Regions from separate parts of the Homo sapiens genome. Here region 2 is linked to region 1. The links come from fine-mapping of genetic effects on gene expression. Tissue or cell type: whole blood. Region 1 holds a variant in brackets; the other region holds the start of a gene. All regions are shown on one strand. Distances are from middle to middle.

Evidence for each region. PIP is the estimated chance that this variant, and not a neighbour inherited with it, causes the effect.
Region 2: FFAR2 starts here. The variant in region 1 is the best candidate, but not a certain one, in a credible set for the expression of FFAR2 in whole blood (INTERVAL, PIP 0.72).

Annotation. Positions count from the first base shown.
Region 1 is chr19:35,473,334-35,480,659 of GRCh38, forward strand. No RefSeq gene overlaps it. Among named protein-coding and RNA genes, the nearest start is that of KRTDAP, 13 kb to the right of the region's middle. The variant T/G (reference allele first, on the strand shown) is at 4,291.
Region 2 is chr19:35,445,302-35,452,627 of GRCh38, forward strand. It overlaps FFAR2 (free fatty acid receptor 2), which reads left to right and starts at 2,956. Exons shown (of 2, transcript NM_001370087.1): 1 at 2,956-3,078; 2 at 4,413-6,466. The coding sequence starts at 4,414. The coding sequence ends at 5,406. RefSeq lists an enhancer at 913-992.

The DNA.
Region 1 (7,326 bases):
CAGATATCTATTATGAGCCAGTCACTGGGTTAGGAGCTTTGCAATGAATCCTTTTTATCAACCCCAACATTGTCCAATAGATATACAATATAAGCCAAGGCCAGGCACAGTGGCTCATGCCTGTAATCCCAGCAATTTGGGAGGTTGAGGCAAGAATGACCCTTGAGGTCACCAGTTCGAGATCAGCCTGGACAACATAGCAAGACTCTGTCTCTACAAAAATTAAAAGGGGCCGGGGGTGGTGGCTCACGCCTGTAATCCCAGCAATCTGGGAGGCCAAAGCAGGTGGATCACCTGAAGTCAGGAGTTTGAGACCAGCCTGACCAACATGGTGAAACCCCATCTTTACTAAAAATACAAACATTAGCTGGGCGTGGTGGCTGGCGCTCGTAATCTCAGCTACTCAGGAGGCTGAGACAGGAGAATCACTTGAACCCAGGAGGTGGAGGTTACAGTGAGCAGAGATGGTACCATTGCACTCCAGCCTGGGTGTCAAGAGCGAAACTCTGTCTCAAAAAAATAAAAAAAAATAAAATAACTTTAAAAAATTAAAAGAAAGAAATGTAATGTAAGCTATTTTTTAAAAAATCCAAGCCTCTTGGATTCAAGCGATTCTCCTGCCTCAGCCTCCCGAGTAGCTCCAGGCACCATTTAAAAATTTTTAATTGTCTAATAATCAAATTAAAAGAAGTAAAAAGAAACAGACGAAATTAATATATTTTATTTAAACCAACATGTTCAGAGGATTATCATCCCAACATGTAATTGGTTAATAAAGATATGAATAGATGACAGATGGATGGATTGGGGTGTGTATGTGTGCATGTGAGCTCCTCCTCTATACCTTTTCTGGGTTCTGAGAAGCTCAGCGGCTTCGTCGCTATTCGGGGACTCACGGGCTTGCCCTTCAAGACCCAGCCTCAAAGCCCCAGACACTGCATCTCTGCTTTCCCGCCTTTTCTGTACCTGTCTCCATGTGGTGCTCCCTTCAGGGCCTGCACACAGGGAAGGGAGGGCCGTCCTCCCGCGAGGCCTCAAGGTGCCTATCGGTGCAGTGGCTCAAACAAAACAGGTGTGACAAAAGGCCAGGAATGCCTCCCAGGGGCTGAGGCACCTCAGGGAGCGTGTTAGAAGAAGTGGACGGTAAAAAGAGAGCGTCCGGGCCAGGAGCGGTGGCTCATGCCTGTAATCCCAACACTTTGGGAGGCCGAGGTGAGTGGATCACTTGAGGTCAGGAGTTCGAGACCAGCCTGACCAACATGGAAAAACCCTGTCTCTACTAAAAATACAAAATTAGCCGGGCATGGTGGTGCATGCCTGTAATCCCAGCTACTCAGGAGGCTGAGGCAGGAGAATCGCTTGAACCCGGGAGTTGAGATTGCACCATTGCACTCCAGCCTGGGCAACAAGAGTGAAATTCCATCTCAAAAAAAAAAAAGAGCGTCCAGAACCAGGACGCATGCGCACATTAGCCCCGACTGGAAGTGCATGAGGACAGAAGGGAAGCAGAAGTTGGGGCTGAGGTGTTCCTGCTGAGAAGAGTGATGGATGTAAATTTTGAAGCTCTGGATCCTGCCCACACCATGGAGCCAAGAGGACCAGAGGAGTCAGCATTGAACTGGAAATCAAGTTGGAACTGAAAATTGACTTATCCACAAATAGTAAGAACTGTGAATTTGGGCCTCAAGGAGAGGAAATTTTATTCCTAGGCAGGGTCTTCTTGGGAAGGCAGCCGGACAAGGCTTCTCTGAAGTCCAGTAAGGTTTTGGGAGGTTTCATTGAGAAACTGAATACTGAGAATGAAATGCTGAGAAATGAACAGATGCAACAGCAAAATTTTTTCCAAAAATTGTGCTGTGTTCTAAATATTTACATTGAATGAATGATACAAAAATATACTCAGGTCAATACAGTTGTGCAGATGATCGGATTTATAAGAAATAACGAGGTGACCTGTTAATGAGAGATAATTTTTTTTTTTTTGAGATGGCGTCTTGCTCTGTCGCCCACACTGGAGTGTAGTGGCACGATCTCGGCTCACTGCAACCTCCGCCTCTTGGATTCAAGCGATTCTCCTATCTCAGCCTCCTGAGTAGCTCCAGGCACGTGCCACCATGCCGAGCTAATTTTTGTGTTTTTAGTAGAGACAGGGTTTCCTCATGTTGGCCAGGCTGGTGTCGAACTCCTGACCTCAGGTGATCCACCCACCTCGGCCTCCCGAAGTGCTGGCATTACAGGTGCGAGCCACTGCACCTGGCCAATGAGACACAGTTTTTAAGTTGTACAGTGAATGACACTTCGTGGTCCCAATCCAGTTAGCCTACCTCTGTGACTCTGAAAAATCTCATCTCGAGATAACTTAAGGAGTGAAAATTGAAAGTCTTCCTAGTTTCTGCCCCTATTGGAGAGGGGCCCCAGATGTTCTGTTAGGAATTAGTAAGCAGGATGACCCTGAGAATAAGCCACAAGAGGAATCTGTGATAACTGGACGTCCTGAGAGATTTTCTCATCAGATCACCAGTGCTGGAGGGACATCCAGGCTCCATCCCTGATGCTACATTGGGAATGAGTGATGAGGGGTGCTCTGTATGGGGAGTGAGGTTTTTCATAATGTGCGAGGGTTTCTGGCTAGAACAACAAATAAAACAAGATTACGTTGAATAATCAGACTGGCAAGGCCTCTTGGAGGAGGTGTCATTGCCACAGAGACCTGGATGAAGTGAGGGAGCAAGGGAAGAAGGGAATGAGTCATGCAGGCAGAGGGAACGTGGCCTTTTGAAGAGCCCTTGAGGAGGCTGGAATGGGGTGCAGAGGGCTGGAGCAAAGTGATCAAGATGGGAGGGGGAGGTAGGAGATGAAGCCCATAGTAAAATCTATGGGGTTTTATTACGAAGTAATGGGAAATCATGGGAGGGTAGAGAGTAGAGAATAGAGGGAGAGCATGAACTGATTTAACATAAAAAGGGCTTTCGGGGAGGGGTGATAGAGGCTCAGTAGGAGGCTAAATACAAAAGCGGTCACTTGCTGTAGGGGGCGCTAAGGAGCATTACCTCAGGTCACCAGCCTGGGAAGTAGACTCAGGTGCAGGTGAGGGAAATGAGGCATCTTTCCATGGGAGAGCCATGGGGATTTTTGTTTGTTTGGGTTGTCATTGATTTAGGGGAGGAGAACCCAGGAATGTTGTGGTCAGTTGGTCTGTTGGGTGTCAGAAAATGTAGTGGGAGGTCTTAATGGGATGATAGTCATCAAGGGCGGGGTGCTGTGTTCATTTCTCAGGAGCATCTGAGGCCATTTCACCCTGTTGAAGTTCTCGGGCCGCCTCCACAGTGCCGCCATTGTTGGGGTTTGTAATGAAGTAAATCAGGCTCTCAGGAGGGACTATGTTTAGGAGGTAACATGAAGAGCACCCCGTCAGCCACCAGAATTCTCAACCTTGTCCCTCACAGCTGAATGGCTTTGGACAGATTGAAGTTAAGGTGTCTTTATTGTGGTTGCCTTAAAATATTATGTTAGGCTGGGCATGGTGGCTCACTACTATAATCCCAACACTTTGGAAGGCTGAGGCAGGAGGATGAGTTGAGCCCAGGAGTTCAGGACCAGCCTGGACAACATAGTGAGACCCCATCTCTACAAAAAATTTTAAAAATTAGTCAGGCGTGTTGGCATGCACTTGAAGTCCCAGCTACACAGAAGGCTGAGGCAGGAGGATTGCTTGAGCCCAGGAGGTCGAAGCTACAGTGAGCTATGTTTGTGTCACTGCACTCTGGCCTGAGTGACAGTGTGAGATTCAGTGTCAAAAATAAATAAAATAAAATGTTATGCTATGAAGTATTTCAAACACACATAAAGATATGAGAAACCATATTAACAAACTCCTGTGTACACATTCCTCAATTGTTTTTTTTTTTTAATTATTTAAGACGGAGCCTTGCTCTGTTGCCCAGACTGGAGTGCAGTGGTGTAATCTCGGCTCACTGAAACCTCCGCCTCCTGGGTTCACACCATTCTCCTACATTAGCCTCCTGAGTAGCTGAGATTACAGACACATGCCACCACGCCTGGCTAATTTTTGTATTTTTAGTAGAGATAGGGTTTTACCATGTTGGTCAGGCTGGTCTTGAACTCCTGACCTCTTGGTCTGCCCACCTCAGCCTCCCAAAGTGCTGGGATTTCAGATGTGAGCCACCACACCCGGACTGCGCTCTTATTTTATTGCTGGACAGCTACCATTCCACCATGTGGTCCACCCTATTTTACACATCCATTGTTTTTTTTTTTTGAGACAGAGTC[T/G]CGCTCTATCGCCCAGGCTGGAGTTCAGTAGCATGATCTTGGCTCTCAGCTCACTGCAACCTCCACCGGGTTCAAGCGATTCTCCTGCCTCAGCCTCCTGAGTAGCTGCGATTACAGGTGCCTGCCACTACACCCAGCTAATTTTTTGTATTTTTAGTAGACACAGGGTTTCACTATGTTGGCCAGGCTGGTCTTGGACACCTGACCTCGTGATCCACCTGCCTCAGCCTCCCAAAGTGCTGGGATTACAGGCATGAGCCACCATGCCCACCCCTGCCCCTCCCCCCCGCTTTTTTTTTTTTTTTTTAAGCCAGGGTCTGGTTCAGACTGGAGTGTAGTGTTGCCATCATAGCTCACTGTAGCCTTGAACTCCTTGGGCTAAGTGATCCTCTCACCTCAGCCTCCCAAGTAGCTGGGGCTACAAGCATGCACCACCATGCCTGGCTAATTTTTTCATGATTTTTTGGAGAAACAGGGGTCTCACTATCTTGCAGAGGCTGGTCTTGAACTCTTGGCCTCAAATGATCCACCTGCCTTGGCCTCCCAAAGCACTAGGATTATAGATGTGAACCACTGCACCCAGCCAACACAAGAAACTAAAATAGTTAAAAATTCTAGGGCTCTGAAATCTAATAGAACCTGAGTTGAAAGCCTGGCTCTGCTATTTCTTCTGTGGGTGCTCTTAGGAAAGTCACTTCATCTTTATGGGCCTCAGTTTCCTCATCTGTCAGAAGAGAGCAAGTGAATACAGTTGCAAATATTATTTCTCTAAGTATGACTCTATCTGAGTCATTATCTAAGTGGAGTTTTATAGCATAATAATAACAGCTACCTTTTATTAACATGAAAAAATCTAGGCTAACATTTACTGAGGTTTTCTAAACCCTTGTGAAGTATTGCTATTATTCCCACTTTACAAATGATGAAACTTTGGCCCTGACAGAGTAGCCACCCAGAGGTCACGTAGCTAGTAAAGTGGTAGGAACAGAATTTGAAATCAGGTCTGACTGATTTTATAACTCATATTCTAACCGCTAAGTTGTACCACCTTAAATGCCTCCAGCGGATACTTAGCAGTGGTTTCCAAACATTTTTTAAGGAATGGAAACATTTTTTTTTTCAAGCAAAGTCTTAAATGAAACAGTAGGTTATAAAGCAAGTGAAGGCCAAATTACACCAGTTAAAGCAGGGATAATGCAGGTACGGGTTCAATCCTGGCTCTGCCGGGTCCTGGCTGTGTGAGCTTGAACAGATTACAGTCTCCGTCATCACTTAATGGTGGAGATACGTTTTGAGAAATGAAGAACAGCAGAGTGCACTTACACAAACCTTTATCGTATCGCCTACTCCACACCTAGGCTGTGTGGTATAGCTTATGGCTCTTAGGCTGCAAACCTGCCCAGCATGTCACTGGACTGAATGCTGCAGGCAACTGTAACACAATAAGCATTTGTGTTTCTAAACATAGAAAAGGTACAGTACAAATATGATATAATCTTTTGGGACCACTGTTGTTTATGCCGTCTGTTGTTGACCGAAACGTCATTATACAGAGCATGACTGTACTTATCTCTCTGAGATTCAATTTCTTTGTTTGTAATATGGGGATAATGATGCCAACCTAATAGGTTTGTTTTGCGGATCAACTGAGATAATATATGCAAAGCACTTGGCATAAAGCCTGGCGCGTGATAAGAACCAAATTAAGAATGGCTGCTATTGAATTGTGGCTGTGGCTGTTACCACCTTCGGGACTGTCTTTACTGACGATGGGATTGAGTGGAAATTTTTCAGCCCCCCATCATCTGACCCAACCTGCATTTCCAGGCCTCCACGCCTACGGGATAGCCCGGCTGAATGACAGCGTTCCCAGTCCAGAATCCCGCACTACCAGTTCTTCGTGCTCTGCCCACTGGAGGGCCCTCTTCCCCCCTCCCTCCTCTAAAAGCATACTCTGGAAATTTTTTGAATATTTTAAGAAACTGTTATTGTAGAATATTTCAAAATTTGCAAAAATAAAAAGCTAGTATAATGAACCTCGTTTTTTATTAGGTAATTACCGACCTTATTTCTTGTGTACCCCAACCTGTTCCCCCCACTGGATTATTTTGAAGCAAATCCTAAAGAGTTTATTACTTCAGACATAGATTTATCATTAGGTATCTGCAAGGTAAAGACTCTTTTTTAACATAACTACAATAATATTTTCACATCTAAAAATATAATTTCTTTTTATTTTTTTTATTGTTTCTTTTTTTTAATTTTTTTTTTAGAGACGGAATCTCACTATGTTGACCAGGCTGGTCTTGAACTCTTGGACTCAAGCAATCCACCCACCTCGGCCTCCCAAATCAAAGAGCTGAGATTACAGGCGTGAGCCGCCATGCCCAGACCAAAGATGATAATGTCTTATTATCAATATGTCCGTGTTCAGGTTTCCTTCGTTGTCTCCTAAATCTTTTTCTCTCCCAGTTGGTTTGTTCAAATTAGGATATAGACAAGATTCATATGTTGCATTTAAGTGATGGGTCCCTTCAATCAACTTTTTTTTGAGACTGAGTCTTATTCTGTCACCCAGGCTGGCATGCAGTGGCACAATCTTGGCTCACTGCAACCTCTGGCTCCCAGGTTCAAGACATTCTCCTGCCTCATCCTCCCGAATAGCTGGAAATAACAGGTGTGCACCCCCACGCCCGACTAATTTTTGTATTTTTAGTAGAGACAGGGCTTCACCATGTAGGCCAAGCTGATTTTGAACTCTTGACCTCAGGTGATCCACCCCCCTCGGCCTCCTGAAGTGGTGGGAATACAGGTGTGAGCCACCATGCCCGGCCTCATCAATTTTTATCTTTTTTTCCCCTTTCCCTTTTTTTCTACAGTGGCTTTTTTTTTTTTTGGATGGAGTTTCGCTCTTGTTGCCCAGGCTGGAGTGCAATGGTGCAATCTCGGCTCACTGCAACCTCTGCCTCCTCCTGGGTTCAAGCAATTCTCCTGCCTCAGCCTCCCAAGTAGCTGGAATTACAGGCATGTGCCACC
Region 2 (7,326 bases), 28 kb before region 1:
GCTCAGTGGCTCACGCCTATAATCCCAGCACTTTGGGAGGCCAAGGCGGGCGAATCACTTGAGGTCAGGAGTTCGAGACCAGCCTGACCAACATGGTGAAACCCCGTTTCTACTAAAAATACAAAAATTAGCCGAGTGTGGTGGCACATGCCTGTAATCCCAGCTACTCGGGAGGCTGAGGCATGAGAATTGCTTGAATCTGGGAGGCAGAGGTGGCAGTGAGCCGAGACTATGTGCCACTGCACTCCAGCCTGGGCGACAGAGTGAGATTCAGTCTCGAAATTAAAAAGAAAAAAAAAAAAGACTGACTCTAAGATAATGGTGCAGGAGATGTGATGGGAAGAGATCTTACGCCCCAAGACAGGGAAGGGTGGAAGAAGGAAGATCTGAGGCCAGGTCTGGACACATTTGATTTGGTTGATTTGGGACACCTGTGAGACACCCAATGGCAGTGTCAACTAGGCAGTTGAGCGTGTACATGTGAAGCTCACAGAAACCTAGGGTGAAGATTCAAACCAGGGGTGTCATGAAGGTGGTAACTGGAACTACGGAAACAGTTGCAGTCGACTAGAAGGAGAGCACAGGCGAGAACAGGAAAGAACCTGGAGCCAAGCTTGAAGGAAGTCACCATTTCGGGGATGAGTAGGGGAATGGTGAGCTAGCAAAGGGGTACGAGAAGTGACCAAAGGAAAGAGAGGGAAGCTAGCAGCGTAACGTATCAGAATTTGTGAAAAGAGGATGTTTCCAGAAGGGCGTGGAAATTGTGTTGAATGCTAATAAAATAAGAAAAGCGTAAGTCCACTGAATTTAGGAACATGGAGGTCACTGCTAACATCGGGAAGAGAAAATCCCATGGAAAATAGGCACAGAACCCAGATTAGGGTGGACTGAGGGGCGAGTGAGAATTAAGAATGTGGAAGTGATTACACAGAACTTTAGATAAGGGTCCAACTTCCTGTGATGACAGGCTGCATTATAAAGACGATGAGAGAAAACTGAACTTGGAAGGAACTGTGAAGGATATTGCTCTTGTGAAAGTTTACCCCCTTGAACTCGGTCTGAGAGGTTGGGTTTCCTTTTCCTGTGACGTAGGTGGACATCATGAACTGTGAGACTGAAAGCCTCCTTGGTGATGCTCCCTTCATAACTGCGGTGAACATTCATAACTGCTGTGAACCCAGAGAGGGGGTTTCGTTGGGGCGTCTTCCACAGGGGGACTCACGACAGTGACGGCGAAAGGCAGGAGGTGGGGGGAGAAGAACGTGCAGAGACAGAGAGGCAGTCCCACTCCTCAACACTTGTTTTCCAATGAGTTTCCTGGATTCTGCAATTAAATCCAGATCCTCGTGCATGTTTATAGGAAATCATAAAAGCGAAATGACACAAATAAATTTGGTGGCAACAAGAGAGAATGGTCTCTTTCTTAGTTCTCCTGTTGATCTGAGAAGCGACGTGTGCTGGGGGAAGGAAATAAAGAACTAGAACGCCTTCAGAGGAGAGTAGAGTGGACGAGAAAGAAAAGCTAAATATCAAAATGTCTAGACCCTGGGGTTACAGACCACAAAAAGAATAAATGACTGACTGACTGAATGACTGAATGAATGGCAAACAATAGGAAGTAGGTATGTCCTAGGGAAAGAATGGGGATTCTGTGAGCAGGAATCAGGCCACAGATGGCAGAACAGAGACTTCTTTCTGAGACTTCCTCCCTAGTTCAAGAGGAAAACACGTTCCAACGATCCTTGCTGCATTAGGTGTGTATTTCAAAGGGACCTTCAGGAGCTCCTAACCTGGGGCTACCAAGGTCAGAGAGGGGGAAACAGTGAGACTTTATCAGGGAAAGGAATGGAGCCTGAGTGCCACTCCCTGACGAAAAGCCACATGGGCACGTGAACTCGGGCCTCCTGAATTCCTGACACTTTCCCAAGAGGGACAGCACATCCATGCCCTGAGCCTCTGGAGGCTGCACCAAGTGGCTCACTCTCTGTGAAGCTGCGTTACAGGCTTGAGACGAGGCAGCACTTACGGGCATCTGCTAAGTGCTTTATATACACAACCTCACTGAATCCTCGCAGAAGTCCTAGGATGTCAGAATTCGCATGCTCACTTGACTACAGCAAACTAGACTTCAGAAAACGGATCTGCCCCCAAGGTTGTAATGAAGGGACCTGGATTTGAGCCCATATCTGCATGACTATAACTCCCACACCATTTCCATCACAACAAGATGCAGGCCAGGACCAGCCTGTTTCAGCTGAGACGGGCAAAAGAAATGTGTTGGGGGCAGAGGGCAGGAGACCATAGAGAAAGTAAAAAAATTGAAGAAGAAAAGGAAGGAGTGCCGGGTGCAGTGGCTCACGCCTGTAATCGCAGCACTTTGGGAGGCCAAGGCAGGCGGATCACTTGAGGTCAGGAGTGCAAGACCAGCCAACATGGTGAAACCCTGTCTCTACTAAAAATACAGAAATTAGCTGGGCGTGGTGGCAGGTGCCTGTCATCCCAGGGAGGCTGACGCAGGAGAATCGCTTGGACTCGGGAGGCAGAGGTTGCAGTGAGCTGAGATGGCGCCACTGCACTCCAGCCTAGACAACAGAGCAAGATTCAGCCTCGAAAAAAAAAACCAAAAAAAAAGAGGAAAAATAAAAAGGAAGGAGGAAAGCTCATTTCTGAGAATGAGCAGAATGACAGAAGAAACTGCCTAAGAAAGAGAAAAGAAAATAATCTGACTTGGGAAGTAAAAAAAGAAAAATGCCTGGGAATTTTTTTTTTAAATCAGGAATTAAGGACAGAAAAATCTGAATTTGGAAGTCAAGAGTGAGGATTCTCTAGGGAGAGAATAAAGATGCTGGGCCTTTCCTTTGGGTTTGAGAGGAAATAGTGCTTAAAGACTGACCTTCCTTTCTCTGGTCACGTGGCTGGTGCTAGTATAAATGCTTACTACCAGCCAGGTTCCTCACCATTTTTTCCTGCATGGCATGGACAGAAGCAGGGGCTAAAGCTCTGTTCCTCTCTCCTGGAAGCTTGCAGACCTCCCTTCAGAACCAATCCCAAGAAGCCACCTATCCGGAACAACACAAGGCAAGGCAGCTAGTGTAGTGCTTGTGCTCTGGGAAGAGAGGCCAGGATCAGGTTTGAGGGGAAGGTTCTGGGAGACTGGAGGAAGGATGTCAGAACCAAATGGAAGACTCATACCCAGAGACAGGAGCTAGTGTGAGGAGCAAGGAAACAGCCAGGAAATCAAGGCTGGAGAGTGGACAGAGGGACAGGACCTGGGTTGGGGCCAGCAAGGGTGACACCCCAAGTGGAAACTGAGTTACCCCGTGAAGAAGACGAGTTCTATTTATGGTCAGAATGCCACGCTCAAGGGCCAGTGAAGGCCTGTGGGCTTTTCTGAATATTTCTCTAAGGTCTTCTAGGGACAAGCCTTCCTCCTAAGGCTAGTGCTGGTTCATCCTTCTTCCCCTCCACCCTCCTCTAAGCCTCCCAGCTTCCCCTTTTCTTTTCTTTTTTTTTTTTTTTAGACGGAGTTTTTGCTCTTACCGCCCAGGGTGGAGTGCAATGGCGCAATCTTGACTCACTGCAACCTCTGCTTCCCGGTTCAAGCGATTCTCCTGCCTCAGCCTACCAAGTAGCTGGGATTACAGGTGCCCGCCATATCACCCGGCTAATTTTTTTTTTTTTTAGTGGAGATGGGGTTTCACCACGTTGGCCAGGCTTGTTTCGAACTCCTGACTTCAGGTGATCTGCCCGCCTCGGCCTCCCAAAGTGCTGGGATTACAGAAGTGAGCCACTGCGCCCAGCCCCAGCTTCCCCTTTTCTAGAGAGTCCCAGAGTTTGGTGTTGGACAGGAGAGGACAAGGTGGGGGAGAATCTGTGCTCTGCAAAACAGACGAACGGAAGTAGGAAGCTGGGCTGGTGGCTGGGCACTTGGGTCCTTTGGAGAGCTGGCACTGGGTATCCGCGCCTGGGGCGCCACAGCCTCTTTATACTGATAAGCATCTTACAGCTCTCTCCCGGCACTGATGCCTTTCTCTCCTGCAGGTCTCTGTCTGAGAAAGGGACTTGAGTAAAGTTAGAAACTGGCAACAGTAACTTCCTGTATCTGTGAGGACAGGAGGAGAAAGGCTAGGGAAACTGGAGGGGGAATTCCCTTGGGAAGCCACGAGTTGGTCTCCTCCAGAGACACATGATGGCAAACATAATCACTACTGCTTAATATCCCGCCCCAGGCAAAGTCAATAATTGCTCTGGGTAGTTCGAGCAGGTGGTGTGAGCAAGCCGTGGTGGCATCAGAAAGCACAGTCCTGGGAAGGGGACGGTGCCGGGGAGGATGTCCGCATCCTGAAGGAGAGCTGGCTGCGCGGGCTGTGAGTGAGACCTCCCTGACCCCGCCCTTTTTTGTTCCCCTCCAGGATGCTGCCGGACTGGAAGAGCTCCTTGATCCTCATGGCTTACATCATCATCTTCCTCACTGGCCTCCCTGCCAACCTCCTGGCCCTGCGGGCCTTTGTGGGGCGGATCCGCCAGCCCCAGCCTGCACCTGTGCACATCCTCCTGCTGAGCCTGACGCTGGCCGACCTCCTCCTGCTGCTGCTGCTGCCCTTCAAGATCATCGAGGCTGCGTCGAACTTCCGCTGGTACCTGCCCAAGGTCGTCTGCGCCCTCACGAGTTTTGGCTTCTACAGCAGCATCTACTGCAGCACGTGGCTCCTGGCGGGCATCAGCATCGAGCGCTACCTGGGAGTGGCTTTCCCCGTGCAGTACAAGCTCTCCCGCCGGCCTCTGTATGGAGTGATTGCAGCTCTGGTGGCCTGGGTTATGTCCTTTGGTCACTGCACCATCGTGATCATCGTTCAATACTTGAACACGACTGAGCAGGTCAGAAGTGGCAATGAAATTACCTGCTACGAGAACTTCACCGATAACCAGTTGGACGTGGTGCTGCCCGTGCGGCTGGAGCTGTGCCTGGTGCTCTTCTTCATCCCCATGGCAGTCACCATCTTCTGCTACTGGCGTTTTGTGTGGATCATGCTCTCCCAGCCCCTTGTGGGGGCCCAGAGGCGGCGCCGAGCCGTGGGGCTGGCTGTGGTGACGCTGCTCAATTTCCTGGTGTGCTTCGGACCTTACAACGTGTCCCACCTGGTGGGGTATCACCAGAGAAAAAGCCCCTGGTGGCGGTCAATAGCCGTGGTGTTCAGTTCACTCAACGCCAGTCTGGACCCCCTGCTCTTCTATTTCTCTTCTTCAGTGGTGCGCAGGGCATTTGGGAGAGGGCTGCAGGTGCTGCGGAATCAGGGCTCCTCCCTGTTGGGACGCAGAGGCAAAGACACAGCAGAGGGGACAAATGAGGACAGGGGTGTGGGTCAAGGAGAAGGGATGCCAAGTTCGGACTTCACTACAGAGTAGCAGTTTCCCTGGACCTTCAGAGGTCGCCTGGGTTACACAGGAGCTGGGAAGCCTGGGAGAGGCGGAGCAGGAAGGCTCCCATCCAGATTCAGAAATCCTTAGACCCAGCCCAGGACTGCGACTTTGAAAAAAATGCCTTTCACCAGCTTGGTATCCCTTCCTGACTGAATTGTCCTACTCAAAGGAGCATAAGTCAGAGATGCACGAAGAAGTAGTTAGGTATAGAAGCACCTGCCGGGTGTGGTGGCTCATGCCTATAATCCCAGAACTTTGGGAGGCTGAGGCAGGTGGATCACTTGAGGTCGGGAGATTGAGAACATCCTGGTCAACATGGGAAAACCCCGTCTCTACTAAAAATACAAAAAAATTAGCTGGGCATGGTGGCACATGCCTATAATCCCAGCTACTCTGGAGGCTGAGGCAGGAGAATCCTTGAACCCGGGAGTTGGAGGTTGCAGTGAGCTGAGATCACGCCACTGCACTCCAGCCTAGCGACAGAGCAAGACTCCATTTAAAAAAAAAAAAAAAAAAAAAAAGAAGCACCTTCAGGCTGGAGAAGCAGCGTAGCTAACACAAGTCCAGTCCTTGTGATGTGGCTGGTAGTTGGGGATGGCCAGGCTGAAGCAGAGAGTCCTAGAGAAATCTCGATACAAGCTTCAAAGCAACACCTAGACACTGCTCTAGCGGTTGATCCTGGAGATAAACCAACAAGAGAGAGATGGAAGAGAAATACTAAATGAGGTCAAAGAAGACTCAGAAAGGTTCTGAGCCTGGAGATGAGCAGGGAGGCCTCAGGGCTTAGACCTTTAATGATAGGGGTTTCCCTGCATTGGTTTGACCTGTTGCCTTTTTGATGTGCTCTGTTTGTTTTCATGTGTTGTCTTGTCTCCCCTGCTAAACTGGGAGCTGCCAGGGGTCTGGGTCTTATCTCCTTCCTCCATGGTACCCCACACAGGCCAGGATGTGGTTTGGTACCCAGCAATCAGAGATTGGCACTCCCTCATACAGGGGAAAGCAACCTGGTCTAGCAAATTGAAAATAAAGATGATAAAACTCTGAAGTGAATGTCCACAATTTTTGTAACACTGCTGCAAGCACAGGGAGGGCAAAAATAGGAGAGAGAACCAGATTCAGCAGCAAAGGGGAAAAGTGATGCATCTGAAACCACAGAAACATCTTAAGATAAAGAGGTGGTGTGGGCAAAGGAAGTGAGAGCACTGACGGAATCGTCTTTCGAGGGATGAATAGAGAGTCCGGACTTAGAAAGGATGCAGGGTGATTCCGATTCACAGTCATCTGTCTGCCACAGGGCCTTAAAACATGTCACCCTCCTGCTCAGAAACCTGCAGAGCTTTCCTATCATCAAAATGTTTCCTTGGCCAGTTGCAGGGGCTCATGACTGTAATCCCAGCACTTTGGGAGGCTGAGGTGGGAGGATCACTTGAGCCCAGGAGTTGGAGACCCACCTGGGCAACACAGTGAGACCCTGTCTCTCAATTTTAAAAATTTAATTTAAAAAGATGCGTCCGGCTGGGCACAGTGGCTCATGCCTGTAATCCCAGCAGTTTGGGAGGCCAAGGCGGGAGGATCGCCTGAGGTCAGAAGTTCTAGACCAGCCTGGCTAACATGGTAAAACCCCATCTCTACTAAAAAGACAAAAAAAATTAGCCGGGCATGGTGGTGCGTGCCTGTAATCCCAGCTACTGAGGAGGCTGAGGCAGGAGAATCACTTGAACCTGGGAGGCAGAGGTTGCAGTGAGCCGAGATTGCGCCACTGCACTCCAGCCTGGGCAACAGAGCGAGACTCTGTCTCCAAAAAAAAAAAAAAAAGTGCTTCCCCCAAGGAACTCATATTGTACCATTCTTTTCCTTGCTTTGTCCTCTCTCTCCCCTTCCAGTTCTACCTGCCTAGCTCATTTT